4 linked regions of the Homo sapiens genome follow. The protein of the gene in region 4 purifies or fractionates together with the protein of the main gene of each other region. This does not show direct contact. Each region holds a gene or a part of one and is shown on either strand. Other genes may lie near its edges.

Evidence for each region.
Region 1: the proteins of C20orf96 (region 4) and VWA8 purify together in Homo sapiens (affinity purification with mass spectrometry; one large-scale study listed by BioGRID and IntAct). This does not show direct contact.
Region 2: the proteins of C20orf96 (region 4) and PRORP purify together in Homo sapiens (affinity purification with mass spectrometry; one large-scale study listed by BioGRID and IntAct). This does not show direct contact.
Region 3: the proteins of C20orf96 (region 4) and PCCA purify together in Homo sapiens (affinity purification with mass spectrometry; one large-scale study listed by BioGRID and IntAct). This does not show direct contact.

What each region holds. Positions count from the first base shown.
Region 1 is NC_000013.11:41,688,247-41,692,293, reverse strand, and holds part of VWA8 (von Willebrand factor A domain-containing protein 8 isoform a precursor), read left to right. Parts: intron 1-355; coding exon 356-420; intron 421-848; coding exon 849-974; intron 975-2,018; coding exon 2,019-2,128; intron 2,129-2,785; coding exon 2,786-2,940; intron 2,941-4,047. UniProt on the Homo sapiens protein: Exhibits ATPase activity in vitro.
Region 2 is NC_000014.9:35,272,368-35,275,699, reverse strand, and holds part of PRORP (mitochondrial ribonuclease P catalytic subunit isoform 1 precursor), read right to left. Parts: intron 2,266-3,332; coding exon 2,134-2,265; 3' UTR 1-2,133.
Region 3 is NC_000013.11:100,091,909-100,095,955, reverse strand, and holds part of PCCA (propionyl-CoA carboxylase alpha chain, mitochondrial isoform a precursor), read right to left. Parts: intron 1-4,047. UniProt on the Homo sapiens protein: This is one of the 2 subunits of the biotin-dependent propionyl-CoA carboxylase (PCC), a mitochondrial enzyme involved in the catabolism of odd chain fatty acids, branched-chain amino acids isoleucine, threonine, methionine, and valine and other metabolites.
Region 4 is NC_000020.11:276,872-280,918, forward strand, and holds part of C20orf96 (uncharacterized protein C20orf96), read right to left. Parts: intron 2,460-4,047; coding exon 2,301-2,459; intron 1,559-2,300; coding exon 1,459-1,558; intron 513-1,458; coding exon 355-512; intron 275-354; coding exon 173-274; intron 9-172; coding exon 1-8.

The DNA of each region.
Region 1 (4,047 bases), on a different chromosome or scaffold from region 4:
TTTAATGTCATAAATGTATCCTAATATAAGAAACAAAGTGTTTCCCATGTGTTTATTTTATGGTGTAAATTCCATGGTTAATCATCAGATAGCCTGTTATTTCTTAACAATGTTTGGTGTTGTTTTTAAAAATTTATTCTGAAGAGGCTTTAGTACAAAGTTCACAGTAAATTTTGATATATAGTTTAATCCATTTTACCATAAGAGTCTTAGAGCAGATAAATAGATAGCTTGTTTGAGAATTACATGTTTTACTAGTTGAAGAACTTTATTTTATTTAAGGGGAAGTAGCTAAAGAGGGACATGACTGTATCTGACACATTTAATATGAATATCTTGTTTTGTTTGTCTTTAGGAAACTTATAAAATGTGTAAAGAATTTTCACACAAAAACTGGCTGGTGTTCTACAAAGAAAAAGGGTGAGCTCTTTATTATAGAGGATTTAAACTGGAGTTCTTATTTGGCCCATTCTATTTCCTATTTTGATTATACTTGTTTACTATAAAGTGAATGTAACCAAATTATGAATGTTTTAATATAAAGTAACTTGCCCACATTGCAGAATATTGAGAAACAGATATAAGAAAAGCTAGTGCTCACAATTCCATGACATAGCCACTACTAACATGGCAATGGTTACTACTTTCCATTATTTTTACTTATACACACCCTGACATAGTTTAGAATTTTGCATATCTGTTTTTTTAATTAACATTTTTCTATATTATTACTTAATCTTAAAACATTCTTTTTATGGGTTGCATAATGTATCATGAAATGATTATGCCAGATTACTCAACCATTATCCTCACCATTTCCTTTCAGATACAGTTTTCTTCTTTTCCAGGAACAGCCTGACTGTGCTGGATGTTCTAGAAGGGCGAACTCACACCATCTCACTTCCCATCAACCTCAAGACAGTTTTCCTTGTAGCAGAGGACAAATGGCTTCTGGTGGAGAGCAAAACAAATCAGTGAGTGGCTTTATATAGTGTATCATGGAGTATGTTGTAGCTCAATCTTATTTATGAATTATCCAACATCTTTACTGTTCTGTCTTTCCTGTGTCTGTCCTTTAACAATTTCTGTGTTTGGCAGCATCTCTATATATGAGACTTATAAGAATTGAGGAGGGGAGAAAAAATAAATGTCACTTCTCAGAAAATGACATTGAAATTAACAGTTAAAAAATCATGACTTTTTCATATGATCCATATTTATTTGGGCTTTTTCCTATTTGTACATTGAGAATTCACTGTATTCTTGCTAAACTGGAGACACTTCAAAGTAGATTTTCCCTTCAAAGAGCCACAGTCTCTATCCTAGAGCTGTTGCCTCTTTGTAAATTCACAGAGTTCACACCTTAGAAGTGTCTTTCTCTTTTTATCTTGTGTATTCTGGTTTGGATGTGGTTATGTTTATGTTTATGTTATCTGACCCATTGGACTGTGCAGTTCTTGATGAAAGGCGGTGTCGACTTTGAGCACCTTCCCTCATGCACAACTCCACTAGCTAAGTGCAGACTCTTTCTGCCCCTCTGCTGACAAGCAGAAGTATCTCATTGCAGAGGATTTCTGCCTATATATACATCCATATTTTAGAAATGTTAAAAATAAGTAGATCAAGGAGACTACAGTTGTGAGGGCATCTATCTCCTAGCTGATCACAAATCAGAAGTCATACTCCCCCTTCCTGGCTGATCAAAGAGTTTTATCAAGAGAGGGTTACATGATAATAAGAGTGCACCCCATTAGAGTTGCTTCCCCTCCCCACAACCCTTTCTCTTATAGGAAGCATTGGATTTTTGCCTCACATTCATTACTGTATTGCTGTTGTGCACTGCTCTTTAACACAGTGTTGAGAAGTTATTTGTTAATTCATGATGAAACTCTAAAACTGCAAATTATACTGGAACTATAAAAAAGAGACTGAGGAGAATCTAATTTTTCTTAGTCTGGCCTTATTACTATTAGAAAAAGAAAAATTTCACTTAAGCTAGATGTTTTGTTTGTTTGCAGGAAATATCTTTTAACTAAGCCTGCACACATCGAATCTGAGGGTAGTGGGGTTTGCCAGTTGTATGTGCTGAAAGAGGAGCCGCCCAGCACAGGGTTTGGAGTTACACAAGGTAAATACTATGTCATCTGTGTTTATGGCTGTGTGAGTGCATGCTTGTACATATACTGTCTTCTAGAATCATTTAAGAACAAAACACCAGCCTATGTTAAGTTTACACCAAAAGAAAAAACTTAGTCACTACACCAGAAATAGTAAATAAGAATCTAGTATCTCAAATTGTCATAAGGAAGTTCACTGTTGTAAGCTCTGTCCTTGAATTTTTTTAACTGACAGATCAGTATTTTTATATACATTTAGGTTGCAAGTCTAATTTAGGATAACATCTTTTTTCTGCAGACTATTGGGATTTCTATTTAATTTATCACAGTTTTGGGGGATGAATAGTACTTACGAAAAAAATCTAAAACATACCATTGCCAACCCTTGGTTGGGTCAGTTTTTACATCTTTTCTACAGGGAGCTATTAATTATAATATTTATTCCTAATAAAATTTTGAATTCTGTAAATACTTGAAATCACTTTGGGAAGATGCCTTGATTATAAAAACAGCATTTTTTCAAACAAAAGCCCATGAATGTAATTTAAAATGTTTTCTCTTTTTTAACTTGTTCTTTTCCATTTGACTTGTTGAGAATAAAATCTTGCAAAAAATTAATTCCTGGAGCATTTCAGGAGCATATGGTGTCTAATGTTTGTACTTTTCAGAAACAGAGTTCAGCATACCTCATAAAATTTCCAGTGATCAACTATCATCTGAACATCTAAGTTCAGCTGTGGAACAAAAGATTGCCTCTCCCAACAGAATTCTCTCAGATGAGAAAAATTATGCTACAATAGTTGTTGGTTTTCCAGATCTCATGGTAAGCACCCATTTTTTAAATTATCGGATAAATGTTTCTTTCCCTTAGTTTGACCTATAATCTGTAAGCCTGTTTGAGGGGTAATTAAAAACATAATTTCCTGGTAAACATGTTGGATCAAGTCTTCCTTCCAAATCAGTCAGTAGAAAATATGTTATACCTAAATAGTTTCATTACACTTCAAAAATTAACATTGAAAGCGTAATGCAATGATAGAATTTAGTAGGGGGAAATGAGTATTCTCCATATGTGGGGGTTCATGTAATACAGTTTAAATGCTTAACCTTCTGATGGTAATTTTCTGTCATGTCTTCTATAATTTTTTAAAGTTAATTATTTTTCCATCTACACATTCTATATATTTATTTATTAACTTTTATTTTAGGTTCAAGTGTACGTGTGCAGGTTTGTTATATAGGTAAATTGCATGTCACAGGAGTTTGTTGTACAGATGGTTTGGTCATCCAGATAATAAGCATAGTACCTGATAGGTAGTTTTTTGATCCTCACCCTCCTCCCACTCTCCACCCTCAAGTAGGTGTCAGTATCTGTTGTTCCCTTCTTTGTGTCCGTATGTCCTCGATGTTTCGCTCCCACTTGTGAGAACATGTGATATTTGGTTTTTTGTTCCTGTGTAAAGTTAAATTTGTTGGATTGTCATTATTGTAGATTAAAATTTTCAACAGTCATGAAGATAGATTTATTTTCCATTGAGTTTTGCTCTGATTTATCATATCTTTGCAGCATCCAGGTTATAGTATAATGGCTAATTGTCTCAATTGATTTTCCTCTTAGATGGGCCCTTCTGTTATCTCCTATTACCTATAAAGGAGAAGCTATTTGAATTGACTGTAGGTGAAACTGGGCGACATCTTCCTCTGATGGAAATGTGGGGAAATTAATTATAAAAGTTATTTCAGTCCAAGTTGCCATCTAACAACCTTAGATGTAGCTCCATGTGTTCTGACTAAACATTTAATTTTTATAATTTCCTTTGTAGCTTTTAGATGGGATGATAGAATTATTTAAAGATAAAAATATGGGCTCTGCTTGACGGTACTCCAATTTTGTATGCCTCAACATTTTAATATAGTTAATGAATGCTGG
Region 2 (3,332 bases), on a different chromosome or scaffold from region 4:
TATGAGCCACCACTTCGGCCTCCTCCTCTATCTCTATGTGCTCCTTTTTTGGGAATTTGCATTAGCCTTTTAGATGGGCTTAATAAATACTTTTTGTCTTCTTAAAATGTTTTTCTTAAAACTATGATAGTTACTTAAAAAAAGAAGTTTAGCTCACTGAAAGCACAGTTTCCTAAGTATGTAGTTTATGAAATTTGGAAAATAAGCAGACTGAATTTATTAGAGCTTTTGCAGTATCTTTTAATGCTCTCAATATATCCAATGTTTTCCTGGAGAGCTCTTTTGTCTTGGTGTGCAGTAATGTTGCATTCAGTAAATAGGTAAGAAGATAAAACGTCCCCTCCTTGGATTTTCCTAAATTGTTTCTCTGTGCATAATACATACCCTAATTATACACATGTATATGGTTTGATATAAAAGAGGTCATTGTTTATTTCATGTAAGTAATTATCTTTTCTTACCCTAACTTACTTTGAGGTATATTGTCATAAATGTAAATATATCAATTTAAAATGTTTAGTGTGAGGAATTTTAACTAATATATACATATAGCTATGTTACTATTACCCAAATCAATATAAGAAACTTTCCATCACCCCGAGAAAGTTCTCTCAAGTTCTCTCATATCCCTTTCCTCAGGCAATTACTATTCTGATTTTTATCACAATAGAGTAGTTTTTGCCTGTTCTTGCATATTGAATACAGTATGTATACGTAAAGAAAGAACTATCATGAAGGGGTGCAGACATGAATATTTTCAGCTGAAATCAAGGGCTAATAAACTGTAAGCTGGCTAGTGAGTGGAAAAAACAGAAATGTAACTATTAAAATATAATCACTTTGTTAAATTAAGTCAAACTTGATTAAGTGGAAAAAAATTGGCATATTTTAGAAAGCCCACATATACTGAATGATGAAATTAATAGTGTTCACAAAATGTTGAACCAATTTGGAAAAGAGATTATAGAATGAAGAAAAAACCATCATAGTCTAGAGAAGTGAGGCTGGGCACTGTGGCTCAAGTCTGCAATTCCAGCACTTTGTTTTGTTTTGAGACAAGGTCTCGCTCTGTCACCCAGGCTAGAGTGCAGTGGTGCAACGTTGGCTCATTGCAGCCTTGACCTCTGAGGCTCAAGCAATCCTCCTACCTCAGCCCCCAAAGTAGCTGGGACTATGTGTGCAAACTACCATGCCTGGCTAATTTTTAAATTTTTTGTAGAAATGAGATCTTACTATGTTGCCTAGGCTGGTCTTGAACTCCTAGACTCAAGTGATTCTCTCGCTTCAATCTCCCAAATTGCTGGGGATCGACTGAGGCCAGGGGTTGGAGACTAGTCTTGTCAACAGAGTGAGACAGCCATCTCTACAAAAAAAAAAAAAAAAATTAGCCAAGCCTGGTGATACATGCCTGTAGTCCCAATTACTCAGGAGGGCTGAGGTAGGAAGATTGCTTGAGCCTGGGAGTTTGAGGCTGCAGTGAACTGTGATCACGTCACTGCACTCCAGCCCTGGCGACAGAGTAAGTTGAGACTCTATTTCCAAAAAAAATAAGAAAAAGAGGAGTGAATGCCCCCTCTTCTCCAATCCAAATAATTGGATGATAAGTAATTAAAAACTGCTATGAATAGTAAGCCTTTAGTATCTTGGCCAGTTTATTACAGAGGACGATAAATGATTCCATGTGGATAGGGCATAACATACAGAGAATGAGACTATGCCAGAAATGGGAGGAGGCATTTGAAACAACATGAGTATCTCAGGGACAGATGGATTGATTCTGCTATTGGTAGGCCTGGAAGGCAAGGTCAGAAGTAGCAAAAAATGGATACCAAAAGCACTATTAGTCACCCAAGCTAAGTGGAATAGCTGGCCCAGTAGGAGAAATGCAGGTTTTGCTCTACACTAAGTTCTCCAACTCTTGATAAGCCTCCAAAAACAAATGTTAGGGGAAAAAAACGCAGCTGGTTATGAAAAGATATATCTCATTTCATTAAAAAATCAATGTCAATGCTGTTAATAGAATCCTTTTATCTTCAGGACAGAGGCAATGCCCTAAACAAACACCAGCTCAAGAGCCTCTGATGCCAACCTAGAGGGTACCCAAACACAAACTTAGCATAGAGGTAAGAATCTCTATGTCTTTTGGTGGAGGCAAAGCCATTTGGTTGGTACTTCACAGGAACATCTTTCTACCAAGTCTTCATCATATGGTATGTGCCACGAGTCTCCAGTTGTTTGCACCACTGTGTCATAGCTGAGAATACGCTGTTGAATTAAAAAGAGAACAAAACATTGAGAACAACACTAAAGGGCTACTTGGCCATTTCTCTTTCTGACACTTCTCAAGTTTGCTCCAGAAGAGTATTGATAATGGATTATCTCACTTAATAATGGATTTTCAAACAGCAGCAAACTCTGTGAAGATGAGCCCTAATATTAGGAGTTCCTTTTTTTGAGGGGTCTCATTTTTAAGTCTAAAGACTCTCTGTAGAAGCATTACATTTATGTAATACAGACGTTCTTTTGTTGGCTCTATCAGTTTTGTGTGTGAGAGTGAAAAATTTCAAATCCAGTCAGCCTTCCACAACTGCAGGTTCTGTATCCCTGGCAAACAACCACAGATTGAAAATATATGAAAACAAAACGAAACAAAACAAAACAACAACAACAACAAAAAACTGTGTTCTGAACATGTACAGACTTTTTTTCTTCTTGGCATTATTCCCTAAAAGATACAGAAACAACTATTTATATAGCATTTACATTGTATTAGGTATTATAAATAATCTAGATGATTCAAAGTACACAGGAGGATGTGTGTAGGTTATATGCAAATACTATGCCATTTTATATAAGGGACTTGAGCATTTGAGGATTTTAGTATCTGTGAGAGGTCCTGAAACCAATTCCTCATGGATACCAAGGGACAAATGTAAACAAAAGTAGAGAAATGCTATAATGAACTCTCATGTACTCATCACCTAGCTTCAGCCATTATCAATTCATCTCTAGTCTTATTTCATCCATACGCTGCCCTCCCATCTCAGATATGTAATTTCTTCTGTAATACTTCAGTATGTATCTCTAAGAAATAAGGTCTTATTTTATAAATGTAAGATCAATACCTTTATACCTTTATTATACTTAAGAATTAATAGTTCTTCAACTATATCTTGAATCACTATGGTATCATTTAATACCACATTTACTATAAATTTATTGTTTTGGATATTCTTATTTACTTACTTTTATAGAGACATGGTCTTACCATGTTGCCCAGGCTAGTCTTAAACTCCTAGGCTCAGGCAATCCTCCTGCTTCGGCCTCCCAAA
Region 3 (4,047 bases), on a different chromosome or scaffold from region 4:
TCTCTCTGTTTCCACTCTTCCCACCCCAGTCCCCAATCCTACTCCCACCCCTACTAAGACATTCGCTACGTACTAGTCACAAACGTCTTTTCCAAACATAAATTCAATGTGCTTAAATGCCTCCAACTGGACTCTCATTACTAAATTCCAAATACAAGCCCCTGATGACTCTGTCCCGCCTACCCACTCCTCCTCCCTCATCTCCTAAGATCACCCCCTCATTCAGTTCACTCCAACCACAGCAGCCACATTCATCCCTTAATTATGCCAAATGCAATCTCCCCTCAGAGCTTTTGCCCTGGCACTCCTTGGTCTGCAATGCTAGGCCCCCATATAGTCACATGGCTGGCTGGCTCAGTTTCCTGTCCAAATGCCACATGCTCAGAAATGTCCCCCATGGTCTCATTAGGTAACATCCCCAACTCAGCACCACTACCACTCTCTATCCCATTAACCTATCTTTTTCCTTCGAGAGCACTTCTCACTCTCTGAACTTTTCTATTTATACGAGCACAGTCTCCTTACTCAAATGTAACCACAATGGGAGCAGAAACAGTCACAATTATATTCCCAGCTCTAAGTAGTGTCTGACACATACTACGTGTAGGTGAATTGAACGATAGCCCCTAAAATGATGTGTCCACGTCCTGGAACCTGTGATAAAGTGTCTTTGCCAATACAACAAAGTGAAGGATCTTGAGATGAAATCATCCTAGATCTTGTCATGGCCCTAAATCCAATGAAAAGTGTCTTTATAAAAGAATGAGAGGGAAAGACGCACAAGAAGGAGGAGGAGAAGGCAGCCATGTGAAGACAGAGGCAGAGACTGGAGTGATGCAGCCACAAGCCAAGGAATGAATGCAGCCACCAGAAGCTCAAAGAGGCAAGAAAGGATTCTCCCCTAGAGCCTTCAGGCGAAGCATGGCCCTGCTCATGCCTTGATTTCAGACTTCAGGCCTTTAGTACTGTGGGAGAATGAATTTGTTGTTTTAAGCCACCAGGTCCATGGTCATTTGTACAGCAGCTCTAGGAAACCAAAGGTTTCTTGAATAAATAATACCAAAGAGAGGGCAGGCACGGTGGCTCACATCTGTAATCCCAGCACTTTGGGAGGCCGAGGCAGGCGGATCAATTGAGGTCAAGAGTTCAAGACCAGCCAGGCCGACATGGTGAAACCCCGTCTCTACTAAAAATATAAAAATTAGCTGGGCATGGTGGCACATGCCTGTAATCCCAGCTACTCAGGAGGCTGAGGCAGGAGAATCACTTGAACCCCGGAGGCGGAGGTTGCCGTGAGCGGAGATCACACCACTGAACTCCAGCCTGGACAACATGAGACTCTATCTCAAAAACAAACAAACAATACCAAAGAGAGTATGCCACATGGATGCTGTATTAGGTTTTGTGAATGAAATCACAAAACTGTATCTTCCAACATTCTTTAAATTCACTTTTATTTTGATCTTATTAGGTTGATCCCATCAGTTTGTGGGGTTTTTTCTAACGAAAATGTCAATAGGCATTTAAAATAAAGAAACTAATTTTTGAAAGTTATGCAATATGCTTATCTTTCAAAAAATATAATTTTGCTTCAACTATTCAAGAGTGTTGTCAAAAGCAGTATTTTTTGTATATAACACTTTACCATGCTACTAAAATTATTCTCATTAAAGATCAAAGATCTTTTCAAATTCTTTCACCAATCTTTTTTTTTTTTTTTTTTTTTTGAGACAGATTTTCGCTCTTGTTGCCCAGGCTGGAGTGCAGTGGTGCAATCTCGGCTCACTGCAACCTCCACCTCCTGGGTTCAAGTGATTCTCCTGCCTCAGCCTCCCAAGTAGCTGAGATTACAGGCATGCGCCACCATGCCCGGCTAATTTTGTATTTTTAGTAGAGACGGGATTTCTCCATGTTGGTCAGGCTGGTCTTGAACTCCCGACCTCAGGTGATCTGCCTGCCTCGGCCTCCCAAAGTGCTGGGATTACAGGCATGAGCCATCGTGCCCAGACTTTTTTTTGAGACAGGGTCTTGCTGTGTCACCCAGGCTGTAGTACATTGGTGTGATCACAGCTCACTGCAGCCTTGACCTCCTGGGCTCAAGTGATCCTCCCTCCTCAGCCTCCCAAGTACCTAGAACCACAGGCACGTGCCACCACACCCAGCTAATTTTTATTTTATTTTATTTTATTTTGTAGAGATAGCCGGGGGTGGGGGTGGTATCATTATGTTGCCTAGGCTGGTCTCAAACTCCTGAGCTCAAGAAATCCTCCCACTTTGGCCTCCCAAAGGGTTGAGATTGCAGGCGTGAGCTACCACACCTGGCCTCATCAATCTTTTATTCCTTAGCCTCTCTGCACCTGGGACATAGTTAGGGAATATGTTTTAATTTCTTTTTCTCTCCTCTGTACGTGCCATAGTACCTGGAACTTAGAAAATGCTCCACAAACACTTTCTGAGTAAAGAGCTAGATCTCTAGACAAATGAATGAATGAATGCTAACTACTTCTTGAAATTTCTTTCCTAGGTTTGGTAACACTACACTACATTGGCTCCTCTCAAACCATACCTCTAACTCCTCTTGTCTCTTCTTCCTTCTTCCAAATCCTAATTTAGGGTTATAAAACGAAGCATTTATTCAATTAAATATTAACTGACTCACTATATCCGTCAGGGCTCACAGTTCTAACTCTAACTCTAGCCTCGTATCCCTGGCCCAAAAGCCAGCCACTGATACCCAGCACCTCAGCATGGCTCCTGCGGGCATCTAACTCCAGATACCTACAATGAAACACTATGTTTCCAGCCCCACCAAAAAAGTGTTTCTTCCCAAATTCCTTTTTCATCCTTGTTCTCCCACCTACATTTTTTAAAGTTTGGAATCATTTAAACAAATCCTTTTCCCTCACTCTTCATCAAAAATGTCACATCTTTTCCTCTTAGAAAAGGACTAGAGCAGTTTTTACCTCTGTTCTGAACCTCTCAGGAACAGAATAAAATCCAAATGGTAGATGTATAAATATATAAATGTCTATAAACATTTTTTTACACCAGAAACTAGTTTCTGTAATAATCTCAGAAATTTCTTTTCCCAAATGATTTGTCAGAAATTTATCAGCATGTTGGAAACATTAACCTCCAGGCAATTCTAAAGCATTCATATAAGCCTAAACATTCTTTTCCATATTTACTGATTACAAAAGAAAATAATGGATGTCAAGTAACACAGGGCTTAAACATTCAAATTTCATGAATGCATCACACAATGAGACCATGATTCAAATGAGACAATTTGTAATTAGAAAAGCAAGCTGAGGTGGGTGGATTGCTTGAGTTCAGGAGTTTGAGACCAGCCTGGGCAACATAGCAAAACCCCATCTCTACAAAAAATAAAAATTAAAATTAAAAAATAGCCAGGTGTGGTCGTACGTGCCTGTGGTCCCACCTACTTGGGAGGCTGAGATGGGAGGATGGCTTGAGCCCAGGAGGCAGAGGCTGCAGTAGGCCAAGATCATGCCACTGCACTCCAGCCTGGCCAACAGAGCCAGACCCCATCTCAAAAAAAAAAAAGGAAGAAAGAAAAGAAAGCCTTCAGAATCATATTATCTAAGGTTCAAATTCTACTTCAGCCAATTGTGCTTTTAAGCAACTACTTAACTGCCCTGAGCTTTGTTTCCTCTACTGTAAAATTGGGATTTTTTACCTAGTTGTTATAAGGATAAAAGATATATGAAAAATCACACCATTGGGCTCGGTGGCTCATGCCTGTAATTCCAAGCACTTTGGGAGGCCAAGGCAGTGGATCAAGAGGTCAGAAGATCGAGGTGGCCAACATGGTGAAACCCCATCTCTACTAAAATACAAAAAAAAATTAGCCGGTGGTGGTGGCGTGCGCCTGTAGTCCCAGCCACTTGGGAGGCTGAGGCAAGGGAATCACTTGAACCCAGGAGGTGGAGGTTACAGTGAGCTGAGATCGCGCCACTGCACTCCAGCCTGGCAACAGAGCGAGACCCCATCTCAAAAAAAAAGAAAAGCAAAGAAAAATCATGC
Region 4 (4,047 bases):
TGGGTTTCCTGTGGAGGAAGAAGAGGTCTGGCCCCCAGGTGCCTCTTCCTGGGCAGCAGAACATGGTAGAGACCGATGGGGCTGCAGTGGGCCTGGAGGCAGAGGATGGGGAAGAGGGCGGGGTGGGGGTGAGACCTGGATCCCCGCTCCCACACAGCAACTGGCTACTCACCGCCACCACAGAACTCAGAATTTTTTTCTTCTTCTTCTGAATCTTGTCAGACAAGGATTCCAGGACCTTTCTGCGCATCTCACCGAGGTCATCCAGCTCATCCTGGGAGCCAGCAGAAGGGTGTTGGTCACCAGTCCTGCCTCCCACACAGTCTGGTGGGAGAGGGGCAGGGGCTCCCCTACCTGCTGGCTGTCCTTAACCTGCTGCAGCTGGCGCATAAGAGTGGAGATCTGGACAGACTTGATGGAATACTCATGGTCCATGTAAGTGCTCAGGAAGTTCACTTCCTCCTGGGTCTTCTCAATCTTGGCATTCAGCTGCTCTGCCTGCTGCTCAAGATCTGGGGAGGGGTTAGGGAGGTCAGCAGGGACAGGAGGCAAGACCTTCCCTCAAGCACCTGGGCCCCAGGAGGCCCAGGAGGCAAGGTCTCCTTGGCCAGTAACTGGGGTCTGGGCTGAGGTGAGCTCACACAGGGCTGGGAGGTGGTTAAAAGTTAAGGCTCTAGACGGTTTTCCACCCCTGCAGGAGAAGAGGCAATGCTGGGTAGGAAAAAGGAAGGGAATTGGTGCATGATCCCTAGACTAGTCCCCACTCTGCCACTGACTTGCCGGGTGGCTCTCGCCAAGACTGTCCCTCTCCAGACTTCAGTCTCCTCAGAGACACACTCAAGGAAGTGAGACCAGGCAGATGGGGTGACAGTGGCTCCCAAGACACAACCCATGGCAGGATTAAGACAAAGTCTATCCTGTCTTCCTCCAGAGAGACCCCCAATGTCTGGGGTTGACTGATCCACCACCCCTCTGCTCAGCAGGTGTGTAGTCTGCTCAGGGAAAAGGAACCACAGGCCAGGCAGGATGGAAGCCAGGAGACCCAGGTTCTAGCCCAGCCACTGACTCCCAGAAGGACCTTGGCAGGAAACAGAGCCAGGCTAGGATTGGATTCTGGCTCCTAGCTATATAACCTTCCACAAGCTACTGCACCTCTCTTAGCCTCGGTTTCCTCATCTGTAAAATGGGAGGACAGCTTCCCTGCCTCCAAGTAGTTGCAATGACTGAGTGTGTGCCTGTAACAATGCAGACATTGGTAGAGACCCAGATACGGGGCCTGGAAAGAGCTAAGTGTTGGGTAACTATGCTATTCGCTCTGTATCTTAGCATTCCCATCTGCCAAGAAGAGAGCCAATGGGGCTGAGGGTTTCTGAATGGCAAGTACAAGGTGAATGCTCTGCTGCTGACCTCCCCAAGGTGCCAGGGGGGAGGGTCAAGGAATTTGCCAGGGATTCTTACAGCTCATCTTGCATTTCTTCTTTTCTTCCCACTCCTGAAGCTCAGATTTCAATTGCTGCAGCCTCTTCTTGTTTGAGTACTCCAAGATGTCGATGATGGTCTGCGGGAGGGGTGGAGTCAACTCACCCACAGGCTCTGCTGGCTCTCAGAGGCGGCCACCCAGCACTTCCTCAGAGGAGTCCCCAGTCCCAACCTCACTCCCAGAAACCTGACCAGAGGCTAATCGGGACAGTAACAGTGTCCACCCATAGGGTTGTTGTAAGGACTATATAAAGACATACAGATCGCTTGCTATTACACGTAGAGGTGTTTGCAAATGCTGTTGGTGGTAGCAGCGACCTCTGTCGCACCGGTACAGTATGTGCCCGGTGAACCCCCTCTGGGACGGGTGCTATGGTGCCGCATTTCACAGAGCTCGGGGAGGCAAAGTTAACTAAAAGTCTCCCGGCCAGTGAGTGCTGGCGCGCTGGGATGAAACCCATCTCGGTCCTCTTGCAAAGCCCAGGTGAGGGGAGTGAAGGGTGAAGAAATGCGTCTTCCAGGTGGAGGAAGCACCACGTGCAGTGGGCGGGGAAAGGCAGGAGAGGGCGCGCGAGTGCGCGGAGGGAGGGCGGGACGGAGGGAGGGAGGGCGGGACGGAGGGAGGGAGGGAGGGACGGAGGGCGGGACGGCGGGAGGGCGGGACGGAGGGACGGAGGGAGGGCGGGACGGAGGGCGGGAGGGCGGGACGGAGGGAGGGAGGGAGGGAGGGACGGAGGGCGGGACGGAGGGACGGAGGGAGGGAGGGAGGGACGGAGGTTGGGACGGAGGGACGGAGGGCGGGCGGATGCCGCGGGTCTCACCGCCAGGGTGTCCTGCTGCTGCAGCAGGGCCCGCACGTGCAGGGTCGTGCTGTTCTCCATCTCCTGGATGGTCTCGATCAGCTCCCGGTTGAGCTTGCTGAGGAAGTTCTCACGGCTTCGGAGCTCTCGCAGAGCGGCCCTCCCGCTCCTGAGCGAGGTCTGCGGGCGGAGGGAAGAGCAGAGAGGCGGCGCTGCGCCCTGCCCGGCCTGAGCCCCCGAAAGCCCGTGGACCCGCCGCCCCGGCCCCGCCAGACGCCCGCCCCCGTGCGGCCTCCTGCTGGTAAACGCGGCCCAAGCTGGGCGGTTCCCCATTGTCTGCGCCGCCCGGGAGCTCCGGGACTCTCATCCGTTCGGAAACGCACGTGTACCCATCATCTCACATCCCTGAGGTGCGGGTGCATCTACAGTTGGTGGCGTGTCACCAACTAATCAACAAATATATTATTAGTGGGTAAATAAAGATGTGCCTTCATATCAATGGCTTCTCAGAATCAATGAAATATAGAAATAATAGTAAGGGCCGGGCGGGGTGGCTCACGTCTATAATCCCAGCACTTTGGGAGGCCAAGGTGGGCCGATCACGAGGTCAAGAGTTCGAGACCAGCCTGACCAACATGGTGAAACCCCGTCTCCACTAAAAATACAAAAATTAGCCGAGCGTGGTGGCGCGTGCCTGTAATGCCAGCTACTGGGGAGGCTGAGGCAGGAGAATCGCTTGAACCTGGGAGGCGGAGGTTGCAGTGAGCGAGATGGCGCCACTGCTCTCCAGCCTGGGCGACAGAGGAAGATTCCTGTCCCAATAATAATAATAATAATAAACGCCCCAGGTAGGTTAAGAAGGTGGCAGAGCGACCGCCATGTCTGGAGGAGAAGCAGGGGAGGCAAAATGGATGATAAACGTCAGCATTTCCGGGCAGGCCGCGGAGTCAATGAGTACTCTCATTTCACACAACAGCCCCCAGTGGAACAAGGAGGGTCTGAGGGTTAAGTGACTCGCCTAAGGTTACACCCAGCAGGTGCATAAAACCTACAGTAACAACAACAACAACAATTGTACTTCCCTAAGGTTACACCCAGCAGGTGCATAAAACCTACAGTAACAATAACAACAACAATTGTACTCCCCTAAGGTTACACCCAGCAGGTGCATAAAACCTACAGTAACAATAACAACAACAATTGTACTCCCCTAAGGTTACACCCAGCAGGTGCATAAAACCTACAGTAACAATAACAACAACAATTGCTGAGGGCCCTCTACATGCCAGGCCAGGTGCTGTGCCTTGCTCTGCAGGTGGCACATGGTATCTGTTCACCCTCCAACAGCTTTATGTTTACTAACTCTATTTTGCTGATAAATGGAGGCTCAGAGAGTTTAATGACTTGCCCAGTGTCACACAGTCAAGAAGTGGCAGGGCTGGAACTGGAAAGCCAGACTTCTGAATCCCAATGTCTGTCTTTCCGTTATGCTAAAACAAGAACTGAGTAGCCTTAAAACTGCAAGGCATGGCTGAACCACGTAGTGACTAAGACTTGGATGTTGAACCTAGACACACCTTGGTTCAAATCCCAGCTCAGCCACTTACCATCTAAGAGAATCTGGGCAAGTTAGTTAATGTCTCAGAGCCTCCTTATACTCATTCTAAAGGTAAGGAAACTAGTATCTGTTTTAGAGAACTGCCGTAAAATATAAATGAGATTGGACAGGTGCGGTGACTCACGCCTGTAATCCCAACACTTTGCGAGG